Homo sapiens: one gene and its partner. The protein of the gene in region 1 purifies or fractionates together with the protein of each later gene. This does not show direct contact. Each region holds a gene or a part of one and is shown on either strand. Other genes may lie near its edges.

Region 1 (3,500 bases):
TTCTTTTAGCATTTACTAGATAAGGAAAGACCTGAAAAGGCAAATACACTGGGCAAGAACCCTGGTGAAGTCTGACACTCTCTCATTCCCAAAGGCCACCTCAATACCAGGCAACCCACAAACCAGCTGTGGTTAATCTGTACAAGTTGGGCAAAGTCTTCCAAACTTTTATTATGTCAAATCCCTATTTAAAAAAAGTTTTATTATGTATCTCCAATATATGCATATTTATTTATTAATTATACCCATCTGTATCTGTGTACAATGTAAAACAAAATTGTTTAAAATAGAAGTTTTAAAAAGATGACACAAGGATGAAATAATTTCTACCTTTCATTTATGAACAGTACAAAAATATTTTTGATCTAAGAAATTATCAATAACAATGCTTTGAGAGAACATAACTGAAAAGTTTCATTTTTTTAATCTTCATTAAAAAAACAAAAAAGTTTTTTAAATAAATAAAACCTTCATTTAACATTTTATGATACAGTGTTTCAAAGGTCCAGTTCAAAGTTCAGGATTCATTTGATTTTGAAACTTAATTAATGGCTATAAACTGAAAAAACAGACCTTACAAAGGCAGAATACTCATAATATATACACTTACAGTCAAGTTCATTGTGACTGACAGTAGATGTAAAACCTTACTTCAAAGAGTTAGCTTAGGCCAGGAGTGGTGGCTCATGCCTGTAATCCCAGCACTTTGGGAGGCTGAGGCAGGCGGATCACGTGAGAACAGTAGTTCGAGACCAGCCTGGCCAACATGGTGAAGCCCTGTCTCTACTAAAAATACAAAAATTAGCTGGATGTAGTTGCGCGCGCCTGTAATGCCAGCTACTTGGGAAGCTGAGGCACAAGAATGGCTTGAACCTGGGAGACGGAGGTTGTAGTGAGCTGAGATCAGGCCACTGCACTCCAGCCTGGGTGACAGAGCAAGACTCCGTCTCAGGAAAAAGAAAAAAGAATTAGCTTAATAATTTTTAAATTTTTGGCGAACTTCTTGTCAAGTCTACTAAAGTGTTATTGTTTTTATCTGTAATTTGGCTGCCAAAAAGCTAGTACTAGAAGGAGAAACCTCAGCTCTGTTGTCATTTTCTTGTTGTTCACTTGTGCTTGCATTATTGGTATTACTGTTATGGAATCTTTACAGGAGTCTTTTTAAGACATGTCTATTTCCTAGCGGTTGATTTGGCTAAAACTAGATAATAATTTATAGATTCATTTAATTATGCACCCATAACTGGATTAATGATTATCTGCCAAAGCGAACAAACAAGTGAAAAAGCCACTGGCAATCCTTCTGTTTTCTTCAGTATACCTGTGCATGACCTCCTTAGCAGGGGTACTGCATCAATCCATTTATTAAATACTAGTAAAATTGTATTTCTTCCTTTTCTTATGCATAAAAATAAGTAAAATTAACAGTTCTGTCTTCCCTTACTTTTCCTTTTTTTTTTTTTTTTTTTTTGAGATGAAGTCTTACTCTGTTGCCAGGCTGGAGTGCAGTGGCACAATCTCAGCTCACTGCAACCTCCGCCTCCCCGGTTCAATCGATTCTCCTGCCTCAGTCTCCCGCGTAGGTGGGACTACAGGCATGCACCACCACACTCAGCTAATTTTTGTATTTTTAGTAGAGATGGGGTTTCACCATGTTGGCCAGAATGGTCTCAATCTCTTGACCTCAAGTGATCCGCCTGCCTCGGCCTCCCAAAGTGCTGGGATTACAGGCGTGAGCCACCGTGTCCAGCCCCCTTACTTTTCTAATACTGTCTTCTCTTTACTCCATGGGAGTTTTGGGCACACTCCTTTGGGGCCTACAACTCAAATATACCTGAAATCCTTACCCAGCACAACTCAATCATTCTCTTAAATGCTTCCCAGATTAGGACTGAATTTGAAGCTAGGACTAAGTTTCCATGGTCACCCCAGGTCAAATAAGATTCTTAGGTTCTTATGATCTGGGCCTTCACCCAAAAGCTGATCCAAAACCAACCTTCAGGATAAACGGACAAGTATAATCTTTCCAGCATACTCACGCTGACACACTTAAAGATGATAAAGAATAGTTATAGCTTCCTGTCTTTACAACATTCATTCACTCACTTAAGAAACATTTGTAAATGCCAACCATCTCATTGACGCAATCATTTACAAGTGTTATCTTAAACACACTATACTATACTTTGATTTACAAAAGTGTCTGAAAGAAAAAGTGTGGTTTGTGCCCCATCGGGTGGCCAAACTGGATATTTCAAACAAGTTGCAGCAACTCAAGTTAAACCTACCTAATCAACATAATACCTTTGGGAAACTGAAGCCTGTAACACAAGTGTTCCCATGGGAGAGTTCTATAAATGAAAATCGTTAATAATGTTATGGTAATGTCTCCTTATACCTGAATATAATGGAAGTGTAGTTCATGCAGAACCTCTCCTTTCCAAAATCCTGCAATAAAAAATTAATTCATCGTCATCCCTTTTTAAGTTAAATAAGAGAGTTTCACTGGGTTAACATCTTATTCACAGATCAAAATATCAAAAATTTTTGAAAGGATATTATTAATTTTAAAGGATGCTATTAATACTCCTGTTAAGTTCTGTCCTCTTCATATACCAAACATAATAAAACCATTTAAAAACACAGAATTTTAGAGCTGGATGAGTCCTTAAATAATACGGGGGTTGTGAGCTTAGAAATCAAGTCCAATTCTCTAACATTAAAGAAACTCAGATGTTTCTTAGCTAAAAGAAGAAATGGTTTCATCAGGATCACACAGTGTGACCGGACTCTCAATGCTTACACATGCTCAAGAGACATATACACATATTCCTAAACAAGTGGCTTAACCCCTCTGGACCTTAGTTTCCTTGCCTGGAAAAACAAGGTAGATAATCTTTAAATTCCCTTTTAGCTCTAAAATCCTGTAATTTAGAAACCTTGTTATTTTATTACAAAACAAAGGATACACTGAAAAAAATCATTCCTGGGTCCTGAGAAACCAAAGAAACACAAGGCCCTAGGGAAAGTCAGCAGCCTAAGGCACCAAATATATTTGCTTCTTCTGCTAATATTCTGCAAAATATTAACATGGTCATATTAGTCTATTTGGTTGAAACCAGTCTCAGTTAATTTTGATTAATCAATTGCAGAGCTTTAAAATATATAGTCACTAATTCTAAATTTTAAAAAAGCTCTTACAAAGATTTACCGGTGTTCTATTTTACATGTCAAAATTTATACTCAAACAGATTACTGGAAACAGGAATAGTCTCGGCTTGTTTGTGTTTATTCTTTGCACAAACTACTTACAAATGGATTGAAGAGATTTTCTTTATATGGCTTCTCCATGTTGGTCTGTTATTTTATGCTTTATTATTCTGCCTATGAAGACTGAATCTATGAACACCACAACTTATTTTTAAATTAAAAAACATAATAATTTTCAGGATATTGATGGGTTATTATCATTAATAATTTTATCAGTTCAAGGAATAAAA
Region 2 (4,239 bases), about 180 Mb from region 1:
CTCCACATCCGCAGAAGCCCTCGCCGCACAGCCTCGCCCTCCCGCCCGATCTCCACGGCGAGGAGTGCTCGACACGCGGGCCCGTCTAGACGGAGGTCTGGGCTAACACAGGGGCTTGAACAGCTGGGGACATTCACCTGTCCAGCTTCTCCCTAGAAGGGGCCTCCAGAAGGAAGTATGGAGAGCTGGGAGGAGGGGAGGAGGCAGGAGGCCATCTGTTTGCAGGGCTGGGACTTGCCTTGGGCCCCAGGGCCAAAGATGTCTAATGTGAGGGCTTGGAGATGCAGCTGGGGAGCCAGGGACGGAGAAGCAGAGAATGAGGTTGGACCACAAGACACCGTGTGCTGCAGCCTCCGGCACAGCACGAAAGGACCCCGCACAGCGACCCCTGCAACCTGTCCCCCTTGGCCACTGCCCTGACCCCCACAGGCCCCCACACGAGCCCCCCACCACGCACCTTCCACACAGAACTCCACCTCCTCCAGGTTCCGCAGGGTGATCCGCATGAGGCTGGAGTTGAGCATCAGCTCGTTCTTGTGGGCTGGCCACAGGTATGGGGGTGCAGGGTTCACAAAGAAGATCCTGGTGTCCCCAGTGGACACCTGGTTGTCACAGATGAGGGGGTCTCCAAAGCCGCTGATCACCACCTTGTTGCCGCCGTCCAGCAGGCTCTCCCGGGCCACCAGGTCTTTGCCCTTCAAGTACCGCCAGACCCGAACCTGGGGTGGACATGGCGGTAGGTGTCATTAGTCCTCTCCTGGGGAAGGGGCTAGACTGGGGGCTTTAGGTGTTTAGGGCAAATGTCCACAGTAGACTCAAGCCCTGGGCAGAGATGTGGGGAGACCTCTGAGTCAGCCCGCTGGGCGGAAGCTGGGGGAAGCCCACACTGGCCACCACAGCCCATGCGGGAACGCTCAGAGATGCGTCACCTGTGAACACATCCCCTCCCCCAGGTCTAACCAACTTCAGCCACCCCAGCTCCAATAACGTCCCTATCAGCTAAGGCCGAATTTGGGAAGGGGGCCCACCTGGCTTGGGGTGCCTGCCTTCCACACTTCTCCCCACCTGCCCAGTGCTCAGGGCCCACCTCCCAGCAAGCTTGGGCAGTGGAGGAGGGGGATGGGGCGTTGGGGTAAGGGGCCAGCTTGGCCCTGTGGCTGGGCTGAGACGCCCCTTCCTCGGGCTTCTACAGTCTGTGCACTCAGGGCAGCCTGTGAACCACGAAATCAAGTTTGGGCAGTGCAGGGTGCCCCACCCTCCACCTTCTCAGCTCCTGGGGCCCTGAGGGCAGCTGCTCTGACGGTGGCCTGTGGTAAAGGCTACAGCCGACCTGGCGGCCCTCACGGGGACAGGGACCCACGCACTCACGCACTCCCCTGAGAACAAAGCCGGGAGAAGCAGCCCCTTCCTCAGATCTGGGGGGCTGGGGCTGCCGGATGGGGGGAGAGACAATGGTTGGCCTGTCCACTGCGCAGCCCCTGCTGGGAGCCTCAGGACTGCGGCATCCGCAGGGACCCCCTCCAGTTGCGCAGGCAGAGCCTCTTCCACGCCCCCCAACAGTAGGCTCCAGGAGGCAGATGACCCAGGCAGGGGGAGGGCCTGGTGGCTTTCATCGCCTTCCCCCACCCCAGCCACACCCAGGAGCAGCGGGGAGGAAGTCGGGAAAATCCTGCAGGGGCCTGGCAAAGTGCCCTGGCCGCTGTGGAGGAGACTGGGCCGGCGGGGGAGCCCAGCTGTAGCCCGCACCGGCCAGTCTGAAAGAAGCTGCCACCTTCTCCACCTCCGTGGAGGGAAATGAGTGGATTTCTGGTCCCAGGAGATGGTTTTGGGGGTACACGGGCGCCGGCTCTGGGTCCCCCGAGCCCCTACTAGGAGAAGATGGTGGGGGTCCCAGCGTACCTACCCCGGGGGCTCCCAGAAGCACCTGAAGGAGAAACCAGGGAAACTTCCCCTCCCCGGGGTGGGGAGCCCCGGTTCCCGCAGGAGCGCGATGGGGCACCGGCCCTGCCCCCAAGCACACGAGGCCCGGTGACGGCCCCGCCCACCTCTCTGCTCCTGCACGCCCCCCCCCCGCACCACTGCGGCACCCCCCACCTGGCTCCCGGGGTTGGGAGCTCAGGCTGTGCGCCCCTTTTTCTCTCCTGACCAACCCCTCTCGCCCCGGGAAAGGCCTCTGGGGAGGGGAACAAGCGGATCCCAGGCCCAGCCCCCGCTCCCCGCCCGGGCAAAGGCCCCCCCTCCCCAGGCCCCTCTCCTTCTCGGCCGGTAGGGAGGGCGCGCGGCAGCCGCAGTCCGTGGGCGAGGTGCACTTGTCTCCGCGAGGAGGGAGGCGGCGGCGGGCGGAGGACGGCGGCGGCGCAGCAACTTTCCCCGGCGCCCGCGAGTTTCCCGGGACCCGGCGACCCCCCCTCCCGGGGCTTGGCGGTCGCCAAGGGAGCCGGAGCGGGGGCTGCGGAGCGACCGGGGCTGGTTCCCACGGCCTGGGGCGGGGGTCCCGGCGGGGCGGCAGGCGTCGCGAGGGGAGGCCGGGGTCCGGGTGGGCGCACCTTGCAGGAGTACGTGTGCTGCACCGGGTCCACGTTGAGGATCTCCTCCACCGTCCCGGTGAGCACCACGTTCGCCTCCTCCTCGCGCCGCTCCAGCGCGCGCTCCGGGCATGTCCCGCCGGCTCCGGGCAGGACGCACGCGGCCACCACAAGGAGCGGCAGCAGCGGCCGCAGCGGGCCCGGGTGGGACCGGCCGGCCATGGCGCAGGCGAGAGGCGGCGGAGGAGCGCGCGGGCCGCGCCGGGGACGGGACTGGACAGGACGGGACGCAGCTCCGGAGGCGGCGGAGCGCGGGCGGGCGGGCGGGGGGGGGCGGGGCCAGGGCGGCGCCCCTCCCCCTCTCTCCTCCCCGCCCCCCTACCCCCTCCCCGCGCCCTCCTCCTCCCCCTCCTCCTTCCTTCCCCCTCCCGCCCCCTCCCTCCTCCCTCCCCCGGCCCGCCCGGAGGCCGGCGACCCGCGCCGCCGCGAACAAAGCCCCGGGACGCAGCGCCCGGCGCGGCCGTGGGGCGGGAAAGGGGCGGCCCGGGAGGGGGCGGGGAGAGGAGAGTGGGGGGCGGGTCTGGATCCCGCAGGCGCCCCTCCCCCGCCGCGGCCCCCCGGAAGTGCGGCTGCACCCGAGTTAATGCCTAATCTGGAGGAGACGTGACGGGACTGCCGAGGGGCTCCGGGCGGCGCGGAGCCGGGCGGCAGGGCTCGAAGGCCGCCGGGAGGGGCCCCAGACCCGGCCCCGATCCCGCTCCGCAGGCCGCGCCCCTCCCCCGCGGGGCCGGACACCGAGGCTCGGCCGGGCCGGACCCCCCGGGAGCTGCGGCGCGGAGGCGGGTCCCGGTGCCGGGGCGGGCGCTGATTGGCCAGCACGGGGCGCGGCCCCGCCCCTCCCGGCCCCGCCCCCCCAGGCCCCGCCGCGGGGAGGTTCGCGCCCCCTTCCGTCCCGCGGCTGCAAGCGCGGGTCCCGCCACGCCCCTTCCCAGCTCTGGGCCGGGCGCCTCTGCAGCTTGGCCTGGCTGGGTGCAGGGGGAAACTGAGGGCTGGAGGACCCAAGTGGGAGCCTGGCCTAGCTGAAGATTGAAAGGAGGGAGCGGAGGCCCCCTTTGTCCCTTCAGAACTGTGTCTAGGCTGGGCGTGGTGACTCACGCCTGTCATCCCAGCACTCTGGGAGGCGGAGGCAGCAAGATCTCTTGACACCGGGTGTTCGAGACTAGCCTGGGCAAAATAGCAAGACCCCATCTCTCAAAAAAATTAAAAATTAGCTGGATGGGCCGGGCGCAGTGGCTCACGCCTGTAATCCCAGCACTTTGGGAGGCTGAGGCAGGTGGATCACGGGAGGTCAGGAGTTCGAGACCAGCCTGGCCAACATGGTGAAACCCCGTCTCTACTAAAAATACAAAAATTGGCCGGTGTGGTGGCAGGCGCCTGTAGTCCTAGCTACTTGGGAGGCTGAGGCAGGAGAATCGCTTGAACCCAGGAGGCGGAGGTTGCAGTGAGCTGAGATGGTGCTGAGAGGTGACAGCGTGCTGGCAGTCCTCACAGCCCTCTCTCGGTCTTCACGCCTCCTCTGCCTGGGCTCCCACTTTGGTGGCACTTGAGGAGCCCTTCAGCCCACCGCTGCACTGTGGGAGCCCCTTTCTGGGCTGGCCAAGGCGGGAGCCGGCTCCCTCAGCTTGCAGGGAGGTGTGGAGGGAGAGGCATGAGC

The links. Proteins that work in one complex are often made in the same cells at the same time.
Region 2: the proteins of XPR1 (region 1) and AGRN purify together in Homo sapiens (affinity purification with mass spectrometry; one large-scale study listed by BioGRID and IntAct). This does not show direct contact.

Annotation. Positions count from the first base shown.
Region 1 is NC_000001.11:180,635,022-180,638,521, reverse strand, and holds part of XPR1 (solute carrier family 53 member 1), read right to left. Parts: intron 1-3,500. UniProt on the Homo sapiens protein: Inorganic ion transporter that mediates phosphate ion export across plasma membrane.
Region 2 is NC_000001.11:1,018,681-1,022,919, reverse strand, and holds the start of AGRN (agrin isoform 2 precursor), read right to left. Parts: upstream 2,801-4,239; 5' UTR 2,748-2,800; coding exon 2,547-2,747; intron 720-2,546; coding exon 458-719; intron 1-457. UniProt on the Homo sapiens protein: Isoform 1, isoform 4 and isoform 5: neuron-specific (z+) isoforms that contain C-terminal insertions of 8-19 AA are potent activators of AChR clustering.